Homo sapiens: one gene and its partners. The protein of the gene in region 2 interacts with the protein of the main gene of each other region in a pairwise test. Each region holds a gene or a part of one and is shown on either strand. Other genes may lie near its edges.

What was found.
Region 1: the proteins of HIBADH (region 2) and SCARB2 interact in binary tests that used the Homo sapiens proteins (3 or more experiments, as listed by UniProt).
Region 3: the proteins of HIBADH (region 2) and CLEC2A interact in binary tests that used the Homo sapiens proteins (3 or more experiments, as listed by UniProt).
Region 4: the proteins of HIBADH (region 2) and TMEM222 interact in binary tests that used the Homo sapiens proteins (3 or more experiments, as listed by UniProt).

The regions. Positions count from the first base shown.
Region 1 is NC_000004.12:76,203,683-76,211,191, forward strand, and holds part of SCARB2 (lysosome membrane protein 2), read right to left. Parts: intron 1-7,509.
Region 2 is NC_000007.14:27,526,727-27,534,235, forward strand, and holds part of HIBADH (3-hydroxyisobutyrate dehydrogenase, mitochondrial isoform 1 precursor), read right to left. Parts: intron 4,623-7,509; coding exon 4,466-4,622; intron 1-4,465.
Region 3 is NC_000012.12:9,915,133-9,922,641, forward strand, and holds part of CLEC2A (C-type lectin domain family 2 member A), read right to left. Parts: intron 7,101-7,509; coding exon 6,934-7,100; intron 1,672-6,933; coding exon 1,568-1,671; intron 1-1,567. UniProt on the Homo sapiens protein: Membrane-bound protein expressed mainly on keratinocytes which acts as a ligand to stimulate the activating receptor NKp65/KLRF2, expressed on the surface of natural killer (NK) cells.
Region 4 is NC_000001.11:27,325,003-27,332,511, reverse strand, and holds part of TMEM222 (transmembrane protein 222), read right to left. Parts: exon of another isoform or gene 5,987-7,509; intron 1,798-5,986; exon of another isoform or gene 1,793-1,797; coding exon 1,708-1,792; intron 1,528-1,707; exon of another isoform or gene 1,375-1,527; intron 1,272-1,374; exon of another isoform or gene 443-1,271; coding exon 411-442; intron 1-410.

The DNA of each region.
Region 1 (7,509 bases), on a different chromosome or scaffold from region 2:
GCCAGGCTGACACCTGACCTGCAGATGAAGGAACAGATGCAGGCTGGATTAGCTTGACTGCTGAACACTGACATGACTTAATACAGCCACAACCCAAGTCAGCCTAACAGCAATCTTTTGGGAAGGCAACACCATGAGAGTGGTGAAACCAGCTGTCCTGATGTAAGCCACTTCCAAGTGATAAAAATAAGCACTCAGGGAATCCATTAGGCTTTCACGGGAATCAGTAATACCTTTAAGGAAAGTTTCGGGATTCGAGAGCACTACTGGTTGTTCTTTAAGGTCAGTAAAGTGCTACTTCATAATTAAACACAACTTAAGCATCCATGTTGCCATCTGCACAGTCTAAATTCATCCAGAGATAATGCAGACCAACTTGGAGAACTTGCCCTAATTGTGTATGGATGGTATATTGGCCTAATTGTATACTGGACTCCAGATTAATAAAACTCATCAAATGGCAAAACACCAATTGATTTGCTTTGTTTTTTAAAATTGCTCCCTGAAACGAAGCAAACCCAACCCAGACTCATGCAGTAATTTAAGTAATTTCCACTGTTTACATAAAAGAAAGAAACTGCCATTAACATTCTACTCTTATTCCCTGACCTTATTTTAACTCAGTAAAAATGTATTGGCATTCATTTATTTATGTCACTGTTGCTTAACTCATTTTCATTTTGCAACTGTCATAATTTTAACTAATGAGCTCTGATAGTTCAGATTCAAATGTAGCTCATGGGTGAACTGTACTTTGTTTATAAATTACATACAGGACAATATGGTGGAATGACAATCCCAAAAAACCTCCTGCTACAAAATACCCACTAACTTATTTTTGAAAGTTTCTAGGTGATTACAAATGTACAGCCAAGTTTGAGAACTGATGACCTAAAGGGAAAAAAAGCAGCTACCGATAGAAACTTAAACATAGAACCAGGTGAAAATTGGGAGCGGGAGGGGAATATATATATACATATATGGGGAGTGGGGAGGCGGGTGAGAAAGAGGAGTTTCAGATGTGAATAAATAAGAAATAAGGCCACGGAAACAAGGCCCACATTCTGTGTGTAACTTGCACAGCCAGTCTCATTATTTTGCAACCTGTTTGGTTGTGATTATATCTCTCAAAATTGAAATAAGTAATATTTTCATTACCTACCTATTTCTATGTCTCCTCTTCCACTACTGTTGATTATCAGAAGTACAGTGTTAAAAGAAAATATCCTTAAAATGGGAATTGTGGGCGCTGGGAGGACTGGTGAGATGTTAGTCAAAGGACACAAAATTTCAGTTTGATATAAACAAATTCAAGAGATCTAATGTACATCATGGTGATCACAGTGGATAACAATATATTGGGCCAGGCACAGTGGCTCACGCCTGTAATCCCAGCACTTTAGGAGGCAAAGGTGGGAGGATTGCTTAAGCTCAGGAATTTGAGACCAGCCTGGGCAACACAGCAAGACCCCATCTCTACAAAAAAATATTTAAAAATTAGCCTGGCATGGTGCACACCTGTAGTTCCAGCAACTTTAGAGTTTAAGGCAGGAGGATGGCTTGAACCCAGGAGGTCAAGGCTGCAGTGAGCCATGGTAGTGGCACTGTACTCCAGCCTGGGTGACAGAGAGAAGCCCTATCTCAAAACAAAAACAAAAACAAAAACAAAAATAAAATAAAATAAAACCCCAAAATATTGTATATTTGAAAAATGCTGAGATTAGATTTTGTGTTCTTACCACAAAACAAAGATAAGTAATTGAGGTAAGGTGTATGTTAAACAGCTTGATTTAGCCATTTCACTATGTATATCTATATGTATATCTCTCTCAAAACATCATGTTGCATGCCCTAAATATGTACAATTTTGACTTGTCAATTAAAAAATGAATTTTAAAAAATGGGACTTGTGATGAGTGATTACATTAGTGTAACAATGGCACTCTGCCTCACACTGTCTCTGGAAAGTGTGTAAAATTCAGATGCTGAAGGGGCCAGATGGCTAGGGCAAATGAGTGACACAGGCCATGGGTTTGTACATTTGTTTGCATGTCAAACCCCAGCAGCAATATTCATTTCTACAGAGAAACATGCCCTCCCCCATTTCTGTTAAACACATGATCCTCTCAAGCTATCTTTCATTTTCCTTCTTTTGGTAAGGAGTGTCAGATATAGAGAAACATTTCTCTACTCTAAGAAACACAACAGCACATGCACAACAACGGATACCTTCACTGGGCCTTGGGAGCCAATAAGGGCGCAAAGGACGGTGGGTGCTGTGGTCTGAATGTTTATGTCCCCTCAAAACTCCTTTGTTGATATCCTTACCCCCAAGGTGGTGAGATTAGGAGGTGGGGCCTTTGGAGGTGATTAGGTCACGAGCGTAGAACCCTCTCGAATGGGATTAGTTCTCATAAAAGGTACCCCAGAGAGCTCATTTGCCATGTGAGGTTAGAGTGAGAAGACCATAATCTATGAGGCAGTGGACCCTCACCATACCCCAAATCTGCCGGGGCCTTGATCTTGGACTTCCTAGCCTCCAGAACTGTAAGAAATAAATTTCTGTTGTTTATAAGCCACCCAGTCTATGCTATTTTGTGACAGCAGCCTGAATGGACTAAGACAGTGGGAAACAGGGAAGGCAGGTCTCTTCTAAGGGTCAGCCTCTTTTCTGCCGAGACAGCTACCACACAGAACTTGGTATGACGAGTACCAAAGAACATCCACATGTTTCAAGAGAAGCTGGAAATCTGGACCAATACGTGAAGTTTCCAGATTTTAAAGGTATAAATCATTCATGAGACAAACATGTGACCACTGGCCTACAGAGTGAGGCAAAATGTGAGACTAAACAACAAAATGCAAACAAAATCATTTCCAAAGAAATTATTTTCTCTATTCATCCAAGTAACACTTACTGACCATCTATTTTGAATAAGACATTGCATTTGGCAGTAAGAAAAGACACAAAACTAAATACGACAGGACATCTACCTTCAAAGAGAGCTTTCATACTAGATTAAAATACCAAATTACGTCATATGGGTTGAAAATCCCCGCAGGGCTGAGGCCAGAAGGGAATTACTGAGTAATTCAATTATGGAGATATGAATGCTCTTGTCTACTTTGATCAGCACTCGGGGAAAGACAAGAGATTGTGGAACTGGAATTACTGATGGCCCAAACTCCTATTTTTAACACTGGACTCACAGGAAAGCCAAAAGGACACAGTAAATCAAAGACACACCAAGCAAAATCCTGGTTGTTTGAAAACATTAACAAGATAGCTTCCAAACTGGCCTTACAGGAATATAAAACAGGGATATTATGTATTTTTAAAAATATTCTAAAAAAATAATTAAATGAAAACTAGATCAACAGTTCTCAAAGTGTGATCTCAGGACCCCTGGGGAGCCCGAAGACCTTCTTAGGAGGCGCCCACAAGGTCAAAACTATTTTAATACTAAGGTATCATTTGCGTTTTTAATTCTATTATTTCTCTGAGTGTAGAGTGGAGTCTTCCAGAGGTTACGTGATATATAATGATGTCATATTGGAATATGTGCTTGTGTAGTCTTCTGTTTTAAACATTTCTCAAAAATACATATCAGTTTCAATTTCTAATATTGTAACTATCAATAGGTATGGAAACATAAGTTCTTTGGGGTCCTCAATAATTTTTAAGAATATGAGGGGCCCAGGAGTTTAAATTGGATTATAAAATCTGCAAGGGTAGAGACTGCCTCTTGTTTAGTGTTATATCCATAGCTCTTAGCACACTGCCTTGCAAATGGTACACACTCAGTAAATATTTGTCAAATGAAAGAATGACTGCCAAAGCATGTACCCAAAAGTGCATTTAGATATAGAAAGCAAACACCTAAAGTGGTCTTTATTTTTCCTTGGTTGTTTTTTCCAGTTACCAGCTTGGATTAAAAATGGTCCCTTCCTTAGTGTATAGTGTATAGATAGTGCATATCTTGATGATATGGCCAGGAATGTCTAGTAACTTGGCCAACATCCTATGTTTTCATCAATGAGCTTATAATTCCACCTCCTGATTCTTCCTGGGAAATAAGCAAATGTCTGGCAGAACAGATGGCCCCTCTGCTGTGGCCTGACAGAATGAAATCTTGGATTTATTTAACAATAAAGCAAAGTAGTTTCCACAGGCAGGAATCTTCCCCTCCTCACCAAATAATATTTCCTTTAATGTAAACTTGCAGATTAATAGTAATTATAAGTAGTAATCTCCTCAGTCAGAATTACCATCTTAAGGAATGAAGACATGGTCTAAAATAATCACTATACAAATATAAACACCTTTTTTAAAAATGCATATTCCCAAAATTGCAGATTACGATCCCACAGCAACCTGCCTCCAGTAATGGATTTTATGATAAGCACTTTAACCTGAGTTCTGTTCCTAATGAGTCTGATTCAGCAAGTCTGGGATGGGGTCTGGTATTTTCTAAATCTTTGTAAGTGATTTAGATGCATCTCCTAGAGTCTAGGGGCTATGCTGACAACTGTTAGCCTACTATATTGTCTTAATCATTAATAAGGAATGCACTCATAGTCAACATGAATTAGTAAGACACTAAAATAAACTTAATATGATTTTGATATCACAAGATCGTGTTTCTAAAAGCCAGGAAAGAATTTGGATAATTTTGCTTAGGAGTTAGAGAATCTTGCAAGGAAATTAACGACACTGCCTCCGTTTACAGTGCTATAGTTTCTTCCTGTGCTGAGCCAATCACATTGCTCCGTTATAAACTTGGAAAAGAGAAACTAGGAGATGAAGCATGTCTATGAGAGGTCAACAGCTGGAAAGTCACACTGAGGCGGGGCTGAGCAAGCCCGGATGAGTACAGAGCCAGGCTGAGTAAACAGAGGAAGCCTGTTGGTGGAGAAAGCAGAGGAAAAAGTGGGAGGCAGAGTGTGCCTGCTTCCTGCTGACTTTCCACTTTCGGTTGTCCTCTCAGGAGGCCTTACTGTGCCGTGGTTCTTGCCCTTTGATTTCTATGAGCTTCCCCTTCCAGATTTACAGAAACAAAAAAAAGAATCCTCTCTTGCCAGAGCTAGTTTGAGTAGGCCTCAACTCCTTAAGAGAGCCAAGAAGCGGGATACATTGTGGTCTGTAAGGACAATGTAGCATGAGAGGTGAGGGATGGCCATAGAATTTATTGTCCAAAGCAGAAATCTTTTGGAGGAAAGGGGGTGTTAGTGATTACACCAGCACAACAGGTACACAGAAACCATGTAGGACTATTCCAGGCAAATGGGATGTATGGTCATCCTTGAGATGGGAAAAGTGGGTTCAGGATCAGAAGGCTAGCTGGCACGCTCTCTCCTTCCCTCTCCATTTGACTTTAGATAAGTCACTTCTATTCCAAGAGCCTCAATTTCCTTGACCGTAAGATAACAGATTTAAGATATCTTTACAGGTTTTTTTCTGATCAAGAAAAATCTCAGACTAAGATAAGTCTTCTTTGAATAGAGGCAACTCAGGAGATGAGGTAGATATGCAAGAAGGAGCCTTTTAAAATGATATATAGCTGAATGCCTTTACATACACATCAATAAAGATGTTTTGCTGATTTGACTTTAAAAAACAAGATCCCATAGTCACCAATCAAAGCAATCTGGTTATCAGTGATTACATTTTACTTCTTTTTTTATTTTTATTTTTATTTTTTTTGAGACAGAGTCTTGCTCTGTCGCCCAGGCTGGAGTTCAAGGGAGCCATCTTGGCTCACTGCAACCTCCGCCTCCCGGATTCAAGCGATTCTCCTGCCTCAGCCTCCCGAGTAGCTGGGACTACAGGCACCTGCCACCATGCCTAGCTAATTTCTGTATTTTTAGTAGAGACAGGGTTTCACCATATTGGCCAGGCTGGTCTCGAACTCCCGACCTTGTGATCCACCCGATTCAGCCTCCCAAAGTGTTAGGATAACAGGCGTGAGCCACCACGCCTGGCCTATATTTTACTTCTTGAGGAATCGGTAGAACAGCTCCAGAGTTTCTATGGCTCCCAAAAGAAACCAGCTGGTACTGACTTGCCCAGAGCCTCAGGTCCAGATGAAGGGGAAGTGTATTTGTCCTGTTCATTGCATCTCTGAGACCTAATGCTACAGTCCTGCCTTGACCTGTGAAGAGGAAGTCAAAGGTGTAAACAGTCTCCCACTGGTTCCCTTGCCATCCCATCCCTTGTTGGCCAGCCCTGACTGTGGCCAGTTCTGCATCCCTATTACTGGGAGACAGTCAACCTGCCAGCACGTCTGCAGAGATTAGGAGCGCAAACTTAATATTCTGAACTGCATAGCTGCTCTTAAAGGTCATGGGATCTCAGAAGTTTGGAGCTAAGAGGAACCATAGCTTGTATAATAAGTTTCAATTCACAGATGACAAATATAGCTAAAGACATAACAACTGTTAACGTTCAGGCATTGTGCGAGGCATTGTGCTGGGTGCTTTATAGATATCATATTATTTCATTCTTGTGACAACTCTGAGTTAAGTATTCTTATCCTTATTGTTCCTATTTTCAAAATGAGGATCCTTAGGATTTGAGGGATTAAATAACTTGCCACTGTGCTTGTTCAGCTTAGTCCAAGAAATCCTTAGGGACAGAAAAAAAATGTTTGATTCAGTTCTGCTGATTCTCAGGACACTCTTCTTTCTATTAAAATGATCACAGGCGAGTGAAGAGGCATTTAATATGTATCTCAGGCACTGTGCTAGGTGTCAAGGCAGTTCACTGGGATACCAGATGAAATGTAACGTAAACTCCTGCCTTTCCAGGCCTAAGGGAGGAAAAGGAACTGCTGGGTCTCTGCAAAGCTCTCTCTTCATGAAGGCCCAAACGCTTGTAAGGAAATGCCTTATTAATGCTCACAATATCCCCTAGGAAGAGGGTGTGGGAAAAAGAGAAGTACTATTATGCCTCTCTTGCAAATGAGAAAATTGAAGCAGAAACAATTACAGGCCTTGCCCAATACGAGGCAGTCACCACTGAGGCCAAAAATGAAACAAAATTGTCTTGGTTCCTTCCACGATATTCACTGGCCAAAATTAAAAGTCTCTCTTCAGTTACCTCTGGTCACTGCAGGGTTCAAGGACAATTATCATTTGAGACAACTTTTTGGATAGGAATTCTCTTACTAAGCTTCCCACACCTACTCATTTGAATTTCATCCCTTTTCCCTCTTCCCTTTTTGACATAGACAAGTCGGGGCATAGACAATCTTCAAATGAAAAAACAAAGAACTGGAAATATCAGAGTAGATTATATTATAACTACATTAGAATCAAGTTATGAATGAATTCTCCCATAGTAATACTAGTGGCAATAAAGATGACTGCCACATATTGATTACCTATTCTGTGCCTGATACTATGCTAAGTGCTTTATACTTGGTCCTACAATAATACACATGCAGAGACAAATCCAGGTTTTGTGGGTCCTGAAGCTTATACAATTTGAAGGGTCCTTCTTAAGAAAAA
Region 2 (7,509 bases):
TAAAACTGCAAAACAGGAAATACAGTTGCAAATATTACTTCATCCAATAAATATTTGAAGTGTGCTGACAATGTGCCAGAAGCTGGGATAAAATGATGAGCAAAACAGCCACAGCCCACCCAAACTCACATTGTGTTAAGGAGAAAGACAATTAAATAAGCATGGTATAATTGGATAGGAGGAGTACTATCATGGGATCCAAGGAAGCAGGGTCTGGGGTGCTGGGAAAGGTGAAGAAAAAGAAGACAGTGAAGCACAGACCTGGAGCCAGGTGAAAACATGGGGGTGGCAGGGAGGTGGTGGGCAAGGAAGAATGATCCATCCTGGCAGACAATGTGACAGCAAATGTGAAGCAAATGTGAAGGTTTCCAAGAGACAGAACAAGAGGGAGAAGTGAGTTCAGCACGATGAAAGCAAGGAGAGGGGGATGGGAAAGAAAATCAGTCTGGTTGAGGCAAGCAAAAGCCAAGGCATCTGGGGGCTTGTCAGACAAGTTGCAGGGATGGACTTTAATCTCCAAGTAACTGAAACTACAAAAGCTTCAAAGGAGAAGTGACACAATCAGGATTTTACATTTTAGAAAGCTCACTCTTGCTTTGATATGGAAAATAAACTGGAGAAGATCAGGCTGAAAGACAAGATCAGTTAAGATGTATTTGTGGTACAACACAAACGAGGCTCAGCCAAGGTACAGCTAGCTGGGGAGGAGGGAGCTGGATGAATTCAAGGCATATTCAAGAAGCAGAATGAACAAACGTCATGGGGAATGAGGGAGAGTAAGCCAAGTATGGGCACATCTTGTCTTAGTGTGCTTCACTTTATCATGCTTCACAGATAATGCATGTTTGTTTTTGTATTTTAATAATTGAAGGTTTGTGGCAATCCTGCATTGAGCAAGTCTATCAGCACTGTTTTTCCAACAGCATGTGCCCAGTTCATGCAGCTGTCACATTTTGGTAATTCTCACAATATTTCAAACTTTTTCATTACTATTATTTCTGTTACGGTGATCTGCAATCAATCAGTAACTTTTTTTTTTTTGAGACGGAGTTTCTCTCTTGTTGCCCAGGCTGGAGTGTAGTGGCGCAATCTTGGCTCACAGCAACCTCTGCCTCCTGGGTTCAAGTGATTCTCCTCCCGCAGCCTCCTGAGCAGCTGGGATTACAGGCATTTGCCACCACCACACCCAGCGTTTTTTTTTTTTTTTTTTTTTTTTAGTAGAGACAGGGTTTCACCATGTTGGCCAGGCTGGTTTCAAACTCCTAACTTCAGGTGATACACCTGCCTCGGCCTCCCAAAGTGCTGGGATTACAGGCATGAGCCACTGTGCCCAGCCGATCAGTGATCTTTGATGTTACTATTGAAACTGTTTTGGGGTGTCAGAAAGCGCACATAAGATGGCAAACATAATCGATAAATGTGGTACACATGTGTTCTGACTGCCCAGCCACTGAATGGCAGCTCTCTCTCTCTTACCCCTCAGGCCTCCCTATTCCCTGAGACACAAAATATTGAAATTAGGCCAATTAATAACCCTACAATGGCCTCTTAAGTGTTCAAATGAAAAGAGGAGTCAGCTGTCTCACACTTTAAATCAAAAGCTAGAAATGATTAAGCTTAGTGAGGAAGGCATGTAGAAAATCAAGACAGGCTGAAAGGCAGGCCCATTAAAACAAACAGTAGAATGCAAAGAAAAAATTCTTGAAGAAAATTACAAATGCTATTCCAGTGAACACATGAATGATAAGTGAAACGGCCTTACTGCTGATAGGGAGTAAGTTTGAGTGGTCTGGATAGATCAAACCAGCCAAAACATTCCCTTAAACCAAAGCTTAACCCAGAACAAGGCCCTAACTTTCTTCAATTCTGTGAAGGCTGAGAGAGGTGAGGAAGCTGCAGAAGACGTGTGAAGCTAGTAGTGATTAGTTCATGAGGTTTAAGCAAAGAAGCCATCTCCATAACATAAAAGTGGAAGGTGAAGCAGCAACTGCTGATGGAGAAACTGCAGGAAGTTAGTTATCCAGAAGATCCAGCTATCACTGATGAGGGTAGCCACACTAAACAACAGATTTTCAGTGTAGATGAAACAGCCTGCTGTTGGAAGATATCATCTAGGACTTTCGCAGCTAAAGAGAAGTCAATGTCTGTTTCCAAAGCATCAAAGGACAGGCTAACCCTCTTGTTAAGGGCCAGTGCAGCTGGGGACTTGAAGTTGAAGCCAATGCTCATTTACCATTCCAAAAATCCTAGGGCCCTTAAGAATTATGCTGAATCTACTCTGCCTGTGCTCTCCAAATGGAACAGCAAAGTCTAGAAGAAAGCACATCTGTTTATGGGATGGTTTACTGAATATTTATTTTAAGCCCACTGTTGAGACCTACTGGTCAGAAGAAAAGATTCCTTTCAAAATACGACTGCTCACTGACAGTACACGTGGTCACCCAAGAGTGCTGATGGAGATGTACAGGGAGATTAATGTTGTTTTCATGTCTATGAACACAACATCCATTCTGTAGCCCATGGATCAAAGAGTCATTTTTCAACTCTTATGTGAGAAGTATTTCATAAGGCAATAGCTACCATATATAGTGATTCCTCTGACAGCTCTGGGCAGAGTAAACTGAAACCTTATGAAAATAATTCACCATTCTAGATGCCATTAAGAATATTTGTGATTCATGGGAGGAGGTCAAAATATCAACATTAACAGGAGTTTGAAAGAAGCTGATTCCAATGCTCATGGATAACTTTGAGGCCTTTAAGACTTCAATGGAGAAAGTCACTGCAGACGTGGTGGAAATAGGAGAACTAGAATTAGAAGTGGAGCCTGCAGATGTGACTGAATTACTACAATCTTGTGCTAAACTTGAAGGGATGAGGAGTTGCTTCTTATGGATGAGCAAAGAAAGTGGTTTCTTGAGATGGATCTACTCCTGGTGAAATGACAGAAAGGATTTAGAATATTACACAAACTTAGTTGATAAAGTAGCATCAGGGTTTGAGAGGATTGCCTCCGTTTTTGAAAGAAGTTCTACTGTGGGTAAAATGCTATCAAACAGTAGCACATAAATCTTCTGTGAAAGGATGAGTAAATCAATGCAGTAAACTTAAACTTCATTACTGTCCTATTTTAAGAAATTGTCATAGCCACCCAACCTTCAGCAACCGCCACCCTGGTCAATCACCATTCATCAACCTCAAGGCAAGACCTTCCACCAGCAAAAAAGGACTATATGACTCACTGAAGGCTCAGATAATTGTTAGCTTTTTTAGCAATAGAGCATTTTAAAATTAAGATACGTATATTGTTTAGACATAATGCTAATGCACACTTAATAGACTATGGCATAGTATAAACGTAATTTTTATATGTACTGGGAAACCAAAAAATTTGTGTGACTTGTTGTGGTTGTCTGGAACTGAACCCACAATATCTCCAAGGTATGCTTGTGTGGTATCTAGGTATATGTATTCTTTTTCTTTTTTTTTTTCTATTTGAGACGAAGTCTCACTCTGTTGCCCAGGCTGGAGTGCAATGGTGCTATCTCAGCTGACTGCCATCTCCACCTCCCGGGTTCAAGCGATTCTCCTGCCTCAGCCTCCTGAGTAGCTGGGCTTACAGACACGCACCACCACGCCCGACTAATTTTTTTTATTTTTAGTAGAAACTGGGTTTCACCATGTTAGCCAGGCTGGTCTCGAACTCCTGACCTCAGGTGATCTGCCCTCCTCGGCCTCCCAAAATGCTGGGATTAAAGGCATGAGCTATCGCGCCTGGCCGTATTCTTACTTTTTAATCAGGAAAAACAAACAAACAAACAAACAAACAAAAACCAACCCTCAACTGGGAGAAAATAAGCACTGCAGAAATCTGAAAGTTAGCTGGTCTAAAAATTATTTTCTGTAGTTGAGAACATAGACTTTCTAAAGTTGAGATCTCAAATAAGAGAAGGATGACAGTTTGCTTTTCCAATGACTTAACTAGTTTTTATATATAAATCCATATATTAAAATCTTAAAGCAGGAAGATGTATTTGGAAATCTATTATCAATGGGAAAATCCTCTCTTCGTGATGCATATATGCACTGCCAGTGTATTATTAACAATGAGAAAATTCTCACTGTTCTCATTTAAGAAGTTGGTAAATTAACATAAATTAATGGTGAACGAAATTTTACCGGCTCATATAAATAAACCCAAGTGCGCACACACACACACACGCACACACATACACACACACACATGGTCTGGCCCATTCTTCTCAACCAAAAGGCCAGGAATAAAAATGAACAAGATAAGGATTTTCATCTAAGTTAGGTTTTTACTCATTTTCAGTGAGAGTGAATATTCTAGTAATTTTGCCTCTTACCTGAGACATATGCTTTATTAAGAGAAAGAGAAGGAAGGTGTTATTGGACCGTGAAACGTTTTTCCTTCTCTCTTGGGTGTCTACATTTACCATACCTTAGCCATGAGTGTTGTTCCAAATCCACCCTGATAGTTATTAGCCGAGGGAACGCCATCCATCACTCCAGGTACAGGATTATAAGTGTCACTTGACCAACACCGTCCTGAGCTCATATTTAGGATTTTAGCCAGTAGTTTTGGGTCAAGCCCTAACCTGTCAAAGGTCAAAGAAAAGAAGTGTTAAGTGTCAAAATGTACACGTCGTGCGTGACTTATTTATGTATGGGGATGCTCCATCTTCTCTCTCCATTTATTATATGTCTTCTAAAATCTAAGCAGGTTGATACGAGAGTGAAGAATCCAATTTTGAATTATAGAGTACTAAACACTACTGGTTAAATAAGAATATTTTTGAGCCAGGACCATTTTGCATTTGGAGAAAACCTTCTATGTTATCCTATTATTAAGAAAAAATAATATACAATTGCATAAAAATATTGTTGGTTTATCACACTCATGGGTTTTCTAGTCTTTGGACATTACTACATTTATATGTCACATAAGAACCTTAAAACAATATGATAATTTAAATTCTACATTCTTTACCCACAAATGATATATTTCAGAAAGAAATACTGACAGATAAACGATGCATCATGGGAGTCTGTGTGAATGCATTTATATGTATGTTTATTCCTTTAGTTTTTATGAGAATAAATGCAAGAGATGAGCCAGGAGCTGTAAACGAGCTTAAGAAAAGTTATTATAAAAGAAGACTTTTTGCTGCAAACTTTTCCTTATTTATTAAATCTTTATTAGACAATCTTGCTTATGAAGCAAGTCTGCACAGAGTTGTGACATATGCTATCTATTCAGAGACATGCATTATAGTTCTGGGTCAACTGCTGATAAGGTTACTGATCCTGATAAAACAAAGCTTGCCCAAGCAGAAACATCATTTGTTCTATCACTGGGCTGATGGCATAAACGGCTGTTCAATGTGGACCCTAGAAAAAATAATAGAATCAAAATGCTCCATTACTTGGATTCTAAAGATATAATGCAGTTTGGGAAGCACAATTTTGCTAGGTATCACTGAATCAAGTTTCAAATAAAACTTTATTCCTAGCAATTTATTTGGTTTCTTTCATACACAGAGCCATTATGAAACAATTGTCATAAAAGCTTTCCACTTTTTCTTAAAACCAACCTCTTCCAGAAAATAAAAAAAACACTGAAAAGAGACACTTATGTAAATGTTAAACAAACTGTGCATCTTGGCACGCTCAGATTGTTTACTCTGTGTGTCTAAAACACATGCCTGTTTATTTCAAAATCTGAATATCATGGCCAATAAAACATTTTTTCAGATGCTAGAGCAGGGGGCTGAGGCTAACAGCCAAAAATATGTATGGAATTACCACATAATACAACTGTTATGTAATCAGGCTTTCAAGGGGTAGCTGTGGTTCCCAGACTGCTATGTGGCATATCATGTATCTGAATTCATATGGTGGCCCATGTTATAGTGATGGATTTTACTAAGGATTGTAACAGATACAGAAATTCAGTCTAAATTGGCTATCATTCATTCTGTTCAACTGTAGATTCCCAGAGAGAAACCCAACAGTTTCATTCATTCTTTTATAAAGATCCAAGTTCACTGCATGCATAGTATGCTACTGATGCTTGCTTTCTCCTTTTAAATAAGATTAGGCTATCAGTATGCTACTGTAGTATATCACTTAGGAAAAGATAAAGCCAGTGTGCTTAGGGAATAATTGTGAAAAGTAAAATCACAATTAACAATTAGTTAATTTGCTATAACTGCAAAGTACCAAATGTTCAAGAATGCATACATCTAATATGCTCCATAAGGAGAAAATACTTTTAAAGACTCCAAAACGTCACTTTCTCTCTCCATTTGAAATATAATTTCAGGGCTTCCTAACTTAGATCTTTTAAGATGGTTCATCATATTTAAAGCAGCAGAATTCCTTCCTTCTTTCTAATCTACCAGGTTACACTCAGTAGTAGCTCACAAGAGCTTTTACAGCTAAGGAAATTCACTCTTTTCTATAATATTCAACAAAATGGTGAGCAAAGCTAATTATCCTAACTTTGTAAAACCCTACATTTTTCTTGAATGTTCAAGGAAAAGTACTGGTATTGATTGATGGAAACCCTTTCTGGTGAACACATTACTATTTAGAAGCATCCTGAGGGGCACACACAAAAAATCAGGTGGCAGTTGTTTCATTCTCACTTTTCAAATCTGATGCTTCCCCACCGTGCTGATTCCCTTCAGGAGATAGTTATTCCCTCTCCACTTCCCTCCCCCTGCCCCCACCCGCAGCAAAGTGTATCATTAAAAAGAGCAAGTTAGAAGTGTTTTGCATTTCATCTTTCTGAGGATTCGTTCTCTGGCACATACATAACTGACAGTTAAAATTAGACATGATATTAAAATCAGTTACTGAAGTCCTCTGTTTTCCACTGTGCCCAAGGCTTGTAATGGTCTGAAACCAGCTAGAATACACAGTAATTGTCATTCAGAGTCTATCCTAGAACGTCATGCTTCACTGGAGAAGACTGAGTTTCCATTCGAAATCAACAAATTAATCCAAGACAGGTATCTGAAAGGGCAAGTTTAATAGGAAGCAGCTACTGGGCTCTCAACCATGATAAAATGTTATTGCTGTTTCCCTGTAAATTGGCTGGGAACATATGATACTTTCTGCATAAGAGCCCCATTGCTGTTCAGAAGATATACAGCTCAAGCCATCAAAAGAATGACAGTCTGTCAGTCCCCATAATAACTTGCCACTGGATGTGGTTCGAGAGTGCATGCGTGCATGCATGTGGCTTTACAATTGCTGGAATGTTCTCTGATATAAACAGAATGAATTCATCGCTCTGACTGCATATATAATGCGTCTCAAATAAACGTCACTGTGTCAAATCTACTCACCTCTAAAACAAGAATTTTAAATGAGGTTTGGAAGAAGTAAAAATAATGCATAAACTGCAAAAAAATTTAAAAAATTAAACATTTGCCTTCACTGTAACCAAGACTTTAAGGGCCAAAAATGTTTGTTTAT
Region 3 (7,509 bases), on a different chromosome or scaffold from region 2:
AAATCAAAACAATAATGAGATACCATCTCATGCCAATCAGAATGGCAATTATTAAAAAGTCAAAAAACTAAAGATGCTGGTGAGGCTGTGGCGAGATAGGAATGCTTATACACTGCTGGTGGGAGTGTAAATTAGTTCAACCATCGTAGAAGACAGTGTGGTGATTCCTCAAGGATCTAGAACCAGAAATACCATTTAACCCAGCAATCCCATTACTGGATATATACCCAAAGGAATATAAGTAATTCTATTATAAAGACATATGCACACATATGTTTATTGCAGAACTATTTACAATAGCAAAAACATGGAATCAACCCAAAGGGCTATCAAAGATAGACTGGTTAAAAAAAAATGTGGTACATATACACCATGGAATACTGTTCAACCATAAAAAAGAATGAGTCCATGTTCTTTGCAGGGACATGGATGAATCTGGAAACTGTCATCCTCAGCAAACTAACACAGGAACAGAAAACCAAACACTGCATGTTCTCACTCATAAGTGAGAGTTGAACAGTGAGAACACATGGACACAGAAAGGGCAACAACACACACTGGGGGCAGTAGGGGGTGGGAGAAAGGGGAGGAAGAGCATTAGGACAAACAGCTAATGCATGTGGAGCTTCAAACCTAGATGATGGATTGGTAGGTGCAACAATCCACCATGGCACACACATACCTATGTAACAAACCTACACATTTTGCATTTGTATCCCAGAACTTACAGTAAAATAAAAATATATTTTTTAATTAATTTTCTTTGTTGATAAACAAATCTTTCCTTATTTATAAGTATAATTTGTCCTGTCTTGCATATTTCAATATTTGTTTTATTGGTTGCTTTTTTTAATCTAGCACGTTACTAAAATAATAAGGCAGAGATACATATGTATCCAAGAAACAATTATATAAATAAAAAAGTAAGCTAAATAAAAAATAAACAAAAATTAAAAAAATAAATATAATATTGCTTATGATGAACATTTGGAAAGCTAAAGACAACTATACAATCCTCAACCATTTTAACCCAAGAAACACTTTTAACAATTTTAACCCACCCAGGAAATGCTTACAGAAATAAAAATAAATAAAATAAGCAACAAATAAATAAAAACAAGTAGTATTCATTGTGGTGGGCATTTGGAATGTTAAAGACAACTATAAAGTCTTTAACCCTTTAAAGACAAAGAAATCTTATATACACTTTACTTGGAAAGAAGTACAAGTAATACGTGAGTTTTGGCTTAAAATTTGCAGAATGATTAAATTTGAATTAGCAAAAGAGAACTAATTGTCAAGCAAGAGCTTGATAATAAAGATAAAATAACAAATAAAAATAAAAATGGAAGATTTCACCATGTGTCATTTAACAAGGTGAGAAGAAAATGGGTTGCTCTAGGATATGCTTCAATGTGAAAGGGCATATGTCATCGATTGGAGACTGAAAAGTTAATTCCACATGGAAAACAGAAAGATTTGTTTATAATAATACAACTCAAAATGATTTAAAATTTTTCATATGACACACCAGAATAAGAACATTGCTAATACATTGGAAACTCACCAACCATTGAATGTGGTGCCATTTGTCCATTTCCAAGAATCTCCTTGTTTCCTGCTTAGTCCAATCCAGTGCATATCAGTTCCTGCGTACCTCTTCAAAAATTCCTTTCACAAAACAAAGGGAATCAGCGATTACTTAATATGTTACAGCACATTGCTGAACATGCTTCCCACCCCAATTATTCTATCTTTTAGGATTCACATTCTAATTTGTCTTCCCTGATGCTTCTATAACAACAAACAGCACAGATGTTGATGTTTGGGTTAGTTTTATCAGAAAGATTTTCATTTTGCTTTTTTGCATCTTAAGTATCTCCAGATAATTGGGCTACAACCAAGTCATTGATACCCTTTAGTATGAATGTCACTGATATTGTATGTTTTTTCATATAATCAGAGATAAAACTAACTTCTATATAAATATAATTTACTGCAATGAAATCTATTATGTGATGGCTTTAGTCACTGCTCTATTGGCTTTTTGCTATTAAGCCACAAACCTTTCATTAGCTTTTTGTTCTTTTAACTTTTATTTTAGGTTCTGTGATATATGTGAAGGTTTGTTACAGAGGTAGACTTGTGTCATGAAGGTTTGTTTTACAGATTATTTCATCACCCAAGTATTAAGCCCACTAACCAATAGTTATATCTGTCATATCTGCCATCACATAGTTCTGGGTTAATTATGGCAATATGCTAATTGAGATCAATAGGAGAGGACTGGAAAGTGTTTTATGTACATCATTTACATAGGCACTGAACAAACTTCTGTGTTAAACAGAACAATTAACTAATTAAAAGTGAGTCTTACCCAATCCAAATATACATGTCAGTACTAGATCAAAGATAAAAGTAGACAGACTCATTAGTTCACAAAAGTCATTTAAAAATTAACTCATCCATAACAAAAGAATCATAAGTCAATCACGTAAACACCACCGCAACCATTGTTGTTCTGGTTTTAGCTCTTTGAGGAATTGCCACACTGCTTTCCACAATGGTGGAACTATTTTCACTCCAACCAATAGTGTATAAGTGTTCTTTTCTCTACAACCTTGCTAGCATTTGTGGTTTTTTGACTTTTTAATAATATCCATTCTGACTGGTGTGAGATGATATCTCGTTGTGGTTTTAATGTGCACTTCTCTAATGATCAGTGATGTTGAGCTTTTTTTCATGTTTGTTGGTGAAATGTATGTCTTCTTTTAAAAAGGGTCTCTTTATGCCCTTTGCCCAATTTTAATAGGGTTGTTTTTCTCTTGTAAATTTGTTTTAAGTTCCTTAGAGATGCTGATGTTAGACTTTGACAGATGCATAGCTTGCAAAAGTTTTCTCCCATTCTGTAGTTTGTCTGTTTACTGTGTTAATAGTTTCTTTTGCTGTGCAGAAACTCTTAAGTTTAATTAGATAATATTTGTCAATTTTTGCATTTTTTTTTACTATTGCTTTTGTTGTCTTTGTCATGAAATTTGCCTGTTTCAATGTCCAGGATGGTATTGCCTAGGTTTTCTTCCAGTCTTTTTATAGTTTGGGGTTTTACATTTAGGTCTTTAATCCATCCTGAGTTGATTTTTGTATATGGTATAAGGAAGGAGTCTTGCTTCAATCCTTTGCATATGGCTAGCCAGTTATTCCAGCACAATTGATTAAATATGGAGTTCTTTTCCTATTGCTTGTTTTTGTCAGCTTTGTCAAAGATCAGATGGTCGTAGGTGTGTGTCCTTATTTCTGGGCTCTCTATTCTGTTCCACTGGTCTATGTGCCTGTTTTTGTACCAGTACCATGCTGTTTTGGTTACTGTAGCCCTGTAGTATAGTTTGCAGTCAGGTAACATGATGCTCCTAGCTTTATTCTTTTTGCTTAGGATTGCCTTGGCAATTTGGGCTCTTTTATGATTCCATATGAATTTTAAAATAGTTTTTTCTTTCTAATTTCATGAAGAATATCATTGGTAGTTTGACAGGAATAGCATTGAATTTCTGTCAGTTCAATGCCATTCCAGCCAGTTCAGCCTCGTTAAGAACTCTTGTTGGAGAACTGGTGCAGTTGTTTGGAAAACATATGACACTCTGACTATTTGAGTTACTGGAGTTCTTGCATTAATTCTGTCTCATCTCTGCAGTGGGTGTCAATTTAACTGCAGTGTATATTTAGTACAGTCGATAGATCTCTTTTCTGTTTGTTTTCATAGGGCTGAAGCTTTGTGCAGGGTCTTTATTTGAAGGTGACTTCTTTAATTTTAGAGGGGGTTATGTTAGTGAGATATTTTTGGTGTTGAAGATTTGAGGTGTGATCCAGTAGGTTGCGCTTGGACGTATTTGTCAGTTGGGAGACTCTTGATCCATTGTGTGACTCCCTTACTTTTCCTCACAGTTGCAGCCATGTTCTCTCTCAATGTTCTGAAAATGTGGGTTTCTCTCCCACTTGAGTGCTGGCTATAGATTGTGACTTGGCAATTCTAGGCTGCCCACTGCAGCTCTTGGGTGATCTCAGTGTTTATGTTTCTTCCCCAACTTGGAGGCAGCAATGGAAGAGACCTTAGTAGTGGTTAAAGCCAATGGTCTTTTGCTTTTCTCCTGGGAGCTTCACTCCAGAGAGATGCAAGTAAGCAATCATTCAGTGCAATCAGCCCAGGATGGAGGGTCTCTGCTGTGGGCCCAAGCTGGAGGTTCCATGTCTGGTGATGAGCAAGGTGGGTGAGCAGAGCCTGTGGAGATGGACTGGCCTCCTCTCCTGCAACTTGTTGGAGGTGTGGATGAGAGACTTAGGGTCTTTGCTCCTTCATTAGTCTGAGGGCAGCAAGGGCAGTTCCAGTGCAGAGGCAGTGGCAGAGAGGTTTCCTGTTGCCCCTGGAGGCTCTCTCTAAGACATTCCAGAGCTGCTACTGGCTCAATAGCGCTTGCGAGGGGGGCTGGAGGCCCAGGCCTGGAGGACCCTCCTGGTGAGGAGACAAGGAGATGGGCACTCATGTAACAGTCTGGCCACTTTATCATAGGGCTGCTGTGGTATGCTGGTGGCCATCTCCAGTCCCTATTTACCTCGGATTTTCTGATACCTGTAGGTACCAACAGTGAAGCCTACAAAACAGCAAAGAAGGTGGCCTGCCCCTCCCTCTGTGAGCTCTGTGCCAGGGAGGTACATAGCTATTACCGGCCCAAGAACACCTGTAGGAGGCAGCTAAAGACCCTGGTTAGAGATCCTGCCCAGTGAGGAGGAATGGGATTGGGTACCCACTTACAAGGGCAGTCTGGCCACTTTTTTGTAGAGCAGCTGTGCCGTGCTGGGGGACCACTTCCACCCCTGGTCAACTTGGACTCTCCAAAGCCTGAAGGCTGGATGGCTAAGTCACCCAAACAGCAAAGATGGCTGCCCACATCTCCCTCTGGGAGCTGTTTCAGGGAGGTGCAATGCTGTTATTGATGGCTGGCTAGAACTCCAAGCCAGTGGGTCCTATCCTGTGAGATGCCATGGAAGTGGGTCCTGCAGAATGTCGCTGCTCAGCCTCCTGGATTCAGCCCCTTTACTAGGGATGTGTAAGGGGGTCTAACCTCCCTCTTCGCTGGAGTTTCAACTACTTTTGCTGGGAAGCCTGGAACTCCTGGCTATCTGAGGCTCCCGGGTCACTGCACATGCCTGAGAGGCTGCTCTTTTGAAGCTCCACTTAGCTCTGTGTGTCAGACTGAAGGCCCCGGTGGAGTTGGTTTACAAGGGGATCTCCTGACCCGAGGGTTGCAAAGATCCATGGGAGCAGCATGGGTTCCAGGGGTTGCACATTCACTCACCACTTCCCTGGGCGAGGGGAGTTCCCCTGGCTCCATGTCGTTCCCAGGTTGGCCATCGACCTGCCTTGCTTTTCTTCATTGTCTATGGGTTGAGTTGTTTCCTTGATTAGTTCCATTGCGTGTACCCTGGATGTTTCAGTTCAAAGTGCTGTATTTACTCACCCCTTCAGTTCCTCTCTTTGAGAGCTGCGCACTCCAGCTACTTCTAGTCGGCCATCTTGGCCACTCTCCAACCCCCAGCTTTTCTTTAAAAACTAATCTATTTTCTTACTCTGTGTCCCTAGAGTCCACGTGTCTCCTTCTTTGCCCTCTTTACTTCCATTAATTCACTCGCGTCTTCGAAGTGCACATATTTCCTTCATTTCCTTGTCTCTAAATTCTAAGAGCTGTATTTTTAAAAATTTTTTCTGTCTATGCTTGGTAGAATGCAAATTGAAAAGGGTTTAAAAAATCTACTTAATAATCTAAGAACATTTAACGAAGACATTTAGATACATAAACAGTATGCATTGTGGTAAAGGACATGGCATCACTAGTCATCTTGCCTGGGTTCAAATCCCAGCCCAACAACTTATGGCTGTGTCATTGGCTGGGTTACATAACATTTCTGTGACTGACTTTCCTCATCTTTAAAGTAGGGAGAGTTATATAACTCCTTCATGGGTGTTAGTAGAAGATTACATGAGATTATATAGTTTCAGTGCTTAGAACACTGTTGAGCACACATTGTCATACACAGTTGACTCAAACAATGTGGCAGTTAGGGGCACTGACCGCCTGTGCAGTCAAAAGTCTGTATATAACTTTTGACTCCTCAAAAAGTTAACCATGCTGTTTATGGTATCTCATGCTAATTCTAGCACTTTGGGAGGCTGAGGCAGTAGAATTGCTTGATCTCAGTTTGAGACCAGCCTGGACAACATAGTGAGACCTCATCTCTACAAAAAATAAACAAAATTAGCCAGGAGTGGTGGTCTGCACCTGTAGTCCCAGCTACTCAGGAGGCTAAGGTGGGAGGATTGCTTGATCCCAGGAATTCAAGGCTACAGTGAGCTGAGATTGCACCACTGCACTCCAGCCTAGGTGCCAGAGTGAGACTCTGTCTTAAAAACAAACAAACAAACAAACAAAAAACAAAAACAGAAAACTTAGCCACTAGTAGCCTGCTGTTGACTGGAAGTCTTACTGGTAACATAAAAGTAAATTAACATATATTTTCATGTTATTTGAATTATATGCTGTATTATTACCATAAAGGAAGCTAGAGAAAAGAAGATGTTATTAAGAAAATCACAAGAAAGAGAAAATCTATTTACTATTCATTAAGTGGAAGTGAAGACATCGTAAAAGTCTTCATCCTCGTTGTTTTCATATTGAGTAGGCTGAGGAGGGGGAAGAAGAGGAGGGTTTGCTCTTGCTGTCTCAAGGGTGGCAGAGGAAAAATAATCCAGGTATAAGTGAACCCACACAGTTCAAACCCATGTTGTTCAAGGATCAATTGTATTATAGTATTAGCTATTATTGTTTTATTATGTTTTTATACAAACAATCTCTGAAATTACTGAAGACTTTTCTGTTTTCTTACCATGTCTTCTTGTGTATCAATCTGAGCAAGTTCTGCTTTCTGCAAACTACAAAATATTTTACTGGCTGTCCAATTTCTGGTATCATCAGAAAAATAGAAACACTTATCTCTCACTCCAAGCCAGTCCCCTGAACATGCCACAGGTTTAGCATGCTTGGACCATGTGGCTGAAAAAAAAAGAAAGAAATGATCAGATAAAGCATATGTTAAAAAGTGTTTCTACTCATTCAGGTGTATTAATTTTACTTTTTGCTTCCACAGTTTGAGGCCCGTAAGTTAGCTTCCCCCCTCCCCAGAATGAGGATGAATTAACTTCCCCTGTCTGTAAGGAAGATCATTTAGTGATCAAGCAGTGCATACTTTTTTCTATTTCCCTGGCTTCTATTTTGAGAAATGGAACCACTAGCTTCTCATAATCTATATTAATATCCTGCCAAAAACAATGCATAAAATGTAGCTATAAATTCTGCAATCAAGGTAGAGTGCTGGAGATCTGCATGTAATTTAGGTTTCGAGGTTAGGGTAAGAAATGGAGGCTTTCCTTTACCTATGAAAACACCCAAGCTAGGAAAGTGA
Region 4 (7,509 bases), on a different chromosome or scaffold from region 2:
CTCCAAACAATGCCTCTCTTCTACCTTCCATGCCTCATTTGTTCCCAAAGGGCAGGAGAGTGAGTCTAGAGGGAGACAGATCTGGGTGTGGGTCCCAGCTCTGCCACTTCCTGTGTGACCTTGACCAAGTCCCTTCCCTTTCCTCACCCTTGCCATGGAGTTGAAAATACAAACCTGAAGAGCTGTGGCAAGGCCCAGATGGTCTACAGGTAAAGGCCCTAGCCAGGGGCTGGTGCGGTACACACTCTGTATGGGGTTGCCATGCTCTGGTGGACCCTGGCTGACCTCTCCCCCGACCCCAAATACTCTATTCTCAGGGTGCTGGCCCCTCCTGTGCCCCAGAAGGCCTGGCCCGCCCCGGCAGGAGCGACCTGCCTCTAGAGCCAGTCACATGGGTGTTCATCACTTACTTGGCAGGCTTTCCAAAGGCCATGTTGTCCTCCTGTTGAGGGACAAAAGCAGAGGTCAGTGAGGAACTTACATTTGGGCCAGATGACAAACCTGGGTAGGTGGCAGAAGTGCAGTGACTTAGAAGAGGGTATGTCAGGGGTGGGGGGGCCAGAAGTGGGGCCTGGGCCCTGCCCTGGGGCTGGCATGGCATCTAAAGAGCTAGCAGCTGTTCTGCAGGAAGAAGGCAGTGTGGCACAAGTGCACAGAGCACTGCATCAGAGACCAAAGATCTGGGGCTCCAGCTGCCACTGTCCCTTGGTGTGGCACCCAGGAATTCTCTTGCCCTCTCTGGGCCTCATTTTCTCCAAGTTCTCTGGTCAGTCTTCTCTGATCTCTGAGGACCAGCAGGAGGTTTCCATCATGGTCTGGCCTCCTGACTCAACAGTGGTGGCCCACATGGAGACCATCTCCTCGCCCAGCAGTCTGACTGCATTCATAGCAGGGCGGGGGCGCTGGGCCCAGAGGGACTTCCTGTGAGGGAGACACTGCAGTGAAGTCCTAGACTCATCACATTATTCCTGGGGTACAGGACTTACACAGAGACAGACTCTGGGTTCAGATCAGGGAGACCCTGCTGACAGACCTGGTCAATGATTAATCACCATAAAAATATATGATAAAGTAATGGATGTGAAAGTATTTTTAAGTACAAAGTGACAGACCTTTGTCGTGTTAAGATGATCATGACAACTATTAATATAAACAGGTTGGTGCCACCACACCCCTTCAGTCCAGCCTCTGACACCTGGAGACAGGATGATGCATGCTCCTCTGCTGCTAGCCCACTGGACCAGTCTTGGTCACAGCCCCAGGGAACAGACCTGAGAACACAGCTGCTTCATTCTAAAGCCCCACCCCCTCTTCTCCATGGCCACACCCAGGGAACCGAATCAGCCTCCCGTGTCCCCCCACCTTGACTCCCACCTTCTGAAGGTCCAGAGATGTGGTTCCTGGATGGTCTGACTCTCCACTCTTGCCTCTAATCCCTACCCATGTCTCGGTACCCCAGGGGTGGGGGCAAAGGGCTGGGTCAGTTACTTAAGAATCCTTCTGGCCACACTGCCCTCCCGGCCTGTCCTGGAGGCAAGAGAAGGGGGAAAGGGGTCAAACACTGGTGAGGGGCAGAGGGCCAGGGCCAGGACTGCGGGTTATCTACGTTCTCCTGGGTCTGGGGAGACGAAGCCTGCCTGCAGGCAAGACAGGACAGCCTTCCACTTAAACCTTGGAACCCCCCGGGTGGGCAGAATGGGGACTCACTGAGACAAAGTAGGGGCCCGCGAAGTCCCGAATGACTCCTGTGGATGTGCAGATGCCCATGTGGCCGATGATGGGGAAAAACCACCTGTGAGGAAAAGGACGGGGAAGGGACAGAGCTTAGGGGATCTTTCAGCCAGTTAGACGGACGCTGGGGACCCTTCATACAGTACAGAAGCATGTGAATATTACGTTTCATTGACAGGTGGCCATTAGGGTGGTCCAGAAGGCTGGGGAAGCACAGACAAGGGTAACTGCAAACCGACAGCACAATGGGATACCTCAGCATCCCGCCAGGATGGCTGTAACTCAAACGACAGCAACACCAATGCAGGTGAGGGCAAGGGACAACCAGAGCTCTCATTCACTGCTGGTGGGAGGGATAAACTGTTTCTACCTTTTTTTTTTTTTCAAATGGAGTCTCGCTCTGTCGCCCAGGCTGGAGTGCAGTGGCACAATATTGGCTCACTGCAACCTCCGCCTCCCGAGTTCAAGCAATTCTCCTGCCTCAGCCTCCTGAGTAGCTGGGACTACAGGTGTGCACCACCACGCCTGGGTAATTTTTGTATTTTTAGTAGAGATGGGGTTTCACCATGTTGGCCAGGATGGTCTCGATCTCTTGACCTCGTGATCCACGTGCCTTGGCCTCCCAAAGTGCTGGGATTACAGGCATAAGCCACTGCACCCGGCCTACCATTTTGTTTTTGAGATGGAGTCTCGCTCTCTTGCCCTGGCTGAAGTGCGGTGGCACAATCTCAGCTCACTGCAACCTCCGCCTCCTGGGTTTAAGCAATTCTCCTGCCTCAGCCTCCCGAGTAGCTGGGACTACAGGAGTGCACCACCATGCCTGGCTAATTTTTGTATTTTTAGTAGACATGAGGTTTCATCACGTTGGCCAGGCTGGTCTCGAACTCCTGACCTCAAGTCATCTGCCTGCCTCGGCCTCCCAAAGTGCTGGAATTACAGGCGTGAGCCACCGTACCCGGCCTGTTTCTACCATTCTGGAAAACAGTTTGGCACTATACTAAATGCCTCAGCAGTTTCACTTTTGGAACCTTCTTTGCCCTCACCCCTGGGAAATAACATTTGCCAAAACTCATTGAACTGTACTCTTAAAATGTGTACATTTTATTATATGTAAACTATAATTCAATAAAATTGATAAAAACAACTAGAAAGAATCCAAATGTTCAACAACAGTACGATGAATAAGTGTGGTATAGTTATACATTGAAATAGTCCATAACAATGAAAAACAGTGTCACTTCTGCTACACACAACACAGGCTTTCACAGACATAAGGGTGAATGAAGGAAATCTTACACAGAGTACGTAACATAGCACTCTGTTTACGTGAAGTCCAAGAAAAGGCAAGACTGATCTATGGCTAGAGGTCCACAGCGGGGTGGAATCTGTGGTAGAACTGACTGGGAGGGCACAAGGGGGTCCTCTGGGTCTTAGCATTGCTTTCTAGCCCCCGTCTGGGTGGCGGTTACATGAGTGTGTGATATGCAAAAATTCTTCCTGCTGTATACTTGAGATTCGCACACCGTTTGGTACATAAGTTATACCTCAATAAGAAAGTTAAAAAAAAAAAAAAAGGTGGGCGGTCATGACACCAGTATGGGTGGGGGAGTTCAGGAAAGGCTTCCCTGAGGAAATAACAAAGAAACAGAATGTGCAAGGGTAGAAATTGGAACAGAAGCATGGTGTATGCCAGGAAATAAAAGTTCCTTTTTTATAAACCATGGGCATTAAAAAACAACAATAAATCTCAGATGCACCCCAATATGTCACACATAGGAACCCCAGACCTGTCTGTGTTCTGAGAACCATGGCCCTACAGGACCTGGGTGCTGGAGAGACTGATCCAGTTTAAGGAGAACTCACAGGGCCAGTGGCCGAGTCCTGGCCTCAATGCTGCCTGGGCACGAGCATAAAGCACCTGGCTAGGGGTGCAGGCCAAGCCTCCAGAGACGCAGTTTAAAAAAGCAGTTACAGGGGGCTGGGGTGGAGCCAGTAAAGACTTCACAGAGGAGGTGACTTTTAACCTTGACCTGTGAAAGGACACAACATCAACAGGCAGAAAACAACACTGCAGAGCAAGAAAGTGGTACATGTGCCTGGAAGAACGAAAGGGGGAGAGGCCAGCTCAGGGGCTACTGCTGTACCACTGGCAAGAGATGATGGAGGTCCTGACTAGAGGATCAGGGGCAGGGTGGTGAGAAACACATGGATTCAAAAGATCTTTCAAATGAAGACTGGAGAGTTTACGACTGACAGGATGGGGGTCTTCCAGGTCTACAGCTTGAGCGCTTGAGACAATGGTAGGGCCAGAGTGGTCTTTTGAGAATTGAACTCAGATTCCATCATTCCCCTGTTCAACACCTATTAATGGCTTCCTACTACACTTATAATACACTTCGAACTTCTTCCAACACTGTGGTGCTAATTATCCCTTGAACTTCATCTCAGTCCCCTCTCTAGCTACACTGCCTGCTTGTGGCCTCAAACACGCCAAATCCTCCCACCCCATGCTTTCTCTGTATCTGCCCTCTCCTCCGTCTGGAACACTCTTCCCAGAGAGCATGGCACAGCTGACTCCTCACTGATTAGGCCTCAGCCTCACTGTCACCTTCGGAGGTCTTGCCTGAACGGTGTCTTCCAGCACAGCCACCCAATCCCAGATCCCACTACAATGCTTTACTTCCCTCATAGTATCTACTACCATCCAAAATTATCTTGGTTATTTATATGCTGTCTCTCCACTAGAACATAAGCTCCAAGAGAGACAGGATTTTTTCTTGTTTACTACGGCAGTGCCTGTATATAGCTGCAACTCACTAAATATTTGTTGACTAAATAATGAATGAACATCCTGCATTTAAGAGTAGAGTCTGGGGCTGGGTGCTGTGGCTCACGCCTGTAATCATAGCACTTTGGAAGGCCAAGGCAGTTGGATTGCTTGAGCCCAGGAATTTGAGACCAGCCTGGGCAACACAGTGAGACCCTGTATCTAAAAAAATCTAAAAATTAGCTGGAGGATCACTTGATCCAAGGAAGTTGAGGCTGTAGTGAGCCAAGGCTGGGCCCAGGAAGTTGAGGCTGCAGTGAGTCAAGGCTGGGCTCAGTGGCTCACGCCTGTAATCCCAGCACTTTGGGAGGCAGAGGCCGGTGGATGACTTGAGGTCAGGAGTTCGAGACCAGCCTGGGAAACATGGCGAAACCCTGTCTATACTAAAAATACAAAAATTAGATGGGCATGGTGGCATGTGCCTGTAATCCCAGCTACTCGAGAGGCTGAGGCACGAGAATCACTTGAACCCCGGAGGCGGAGGATGCAGTGAGCTGAGATCACGCCACTGCATTCCAGCCTGGGTGACAGAGCAAGACTCTGTCTCTAAATAAATAAATAAATAAAAATTAAAAACAACAAACAAACGCCAACAGTGAAGTCATGCTCAGATATCATCTGGGTTGAGGCTTGCCTTTGTTCTGGGCAAGTTACTAATTCCCATCTCTCTGTGGATAGTAAAAATTACCTTAATGAGGAGCTATTGTGAGGATTAAATGGATAGACTTATCCATTTACACAGTGCCTAGGACTCTGCCTTCCGCTTGGCAGCTGCTCAATGTTGTCATCTCGAGGTGTTCAATACATAAGCACTATCTGACTGACTGCACTAACATAGAATAAGTTGCAGAAGATCCACAGGCCACAGGATGGACATTCAGGATTATGGGAAAGTAGCTCATCCTGATCTCAGGACTGCCCTCCACCCCCATCTCTGCCCCCTAATCCTTTCATCTGCTTGGGAGGAAGTCTGGGTCCAACCAGGATTCCACACGCCACAGCTGTGCTGGCAGCAGTGGATGGAAATCAGAGTAAAGGCTGGAAGCCCCAGAGAAGAAACCCTCAAAGTGGTTTGTCAGCCTGGAAGCTCCAGGAAGGCAGCTCCAGAGCCGCTTTGTGGACTACCTTCTATTCAGGACCTAGTACATAATAGGTGCTTTATAAAGATACAATAAATGAATAAATGACTCACTCATCCTGGAGCTCAATCTGGGAAGGTAGGCTAACTCAGCAAAAGAGCACCACACTGGCTTCTAAGCCTTACTTCCTCATCTATAAAATGGTGACAACAGTATCTACTTTCATAGGTTGACATTAGGATTGAGTGAGTGAACATACAATGTTTAGGACAGAGTAAGCATCTAATCTTAGCTGTTTTTATTAGTAGCAGCAGCTATTAAACTAGTTTCTTTTTTTTCCCTTTTTTTTGGTTACAGCAGCACTTTTATTTTTCCTTACACAATGACATGCCGCTGGGGCCTAATGTTCTCACATAACAGTAGAAAACCAAAATCTGTTCTCATCTCCTTAAAGAATCGAGAATTGCATACAAAAAAAAACCTTACATAAATTAAAAGGATGAATACATTTACAGGTGTAAATGCAAACTGCTTCCAACTCAAAGCAAGTCACAGCCCACAGTGTTCTGGCAGGAAAACATCAGCTAAGAAAGGAAACTGGGTCCTATGGCTTGGCCTTTCCAACCCTGACAGACCAGCAGGACAGAAACAACTGGTTCAGGAGCCCTTGTCAGCCTCTAGAGAAATCCCAGAACACTCAGCCATGACATATTAATACCCTGCAAAGATCGGAGACTGCTGGCCATGCAGACTCACCAAGTCGCACTTGTCTTCCACAAGCACATTCTTACCTTGCCACGCAGTGACCAAGCCACATGTACTAAGGGTTGAAAGCAAAGATATGTACAGGGTATTAAACAAATACCAAGGGGAACAGTTAACTTGAATACAAGGTCAAAATCAGCAACAAGTTCTACAATCCAGTGCTGATATTAGATACAAGCTTCAACGACAATTTCTTTTCGAAGGCTTATTCCATTTTCGTGAGGCTAGCATGAGGTATATGCATTTGCCAGGGCCAATTTATACTTCTGAATTAACCCATGCAGCAAATGCTACGCATCGGCTCGCAGTCCATTTAGAAGCATTTGCGGTGGACGATACAGGGGCCTGACTCGTCATACTCCTGCTTGCTAATCCACATCTGCTGGAAGGTGGACAGTGAGGCCAGGATGGAGCCGCTGATCCACACAGAGTACTTGCACTCTGGGGGCACAATGAGCTTGATCTTCATGGTGCTGGATGCCAGGGCGTTAATCTCCTTCTGCATCCTGTCGGTGATGCCCGGGTACATGGTGGTGCCTCTGGATAGCCCTATGTTGGTGTACAGGTCTTTGCGGATGTCTACGTCACACTTCATGATGGAGTTGAACGTGGTCTCGTGGATGCCGCAAGATTCCATACCCAGGAAGGAAGGCTGGAACAGCGCCTCCGGACACTGGAACCGCTTGTTGCTGATGGTGATGACCTGGCCATCCGGCAGCTTGTAGCTCTTCTCCAGGGAGGAGGATGTGGTAGTGGCCATCTCCTGCTCGAAGTCCAGGGAGACAAAAATATGGAACGCTTCACGAATCTGCATGTCATCCTTGCGCAGGGGCCATGCTAATCTTCTCTGTATCGTTCCAATTTTAGTATATGTGCTGCTGAGGCGAGCACTAAACTGGTTTTTCATGCAGAATTACCAACATCTCTGAGGGGGTAGACAGATCTTTGGGTTCCATTTCCTCCTCTGATCTCTCCTCCAAAGACAGGTGACAGTTACTTGCGCCACATCTATGCCTAGCTCTGCAATCATCACTATACAGTAATACTACGATGGCTAATTGACCTTTCTCTCCCTCCTGCTGGAGGTGAGTCCTTTGAAGGTGACAT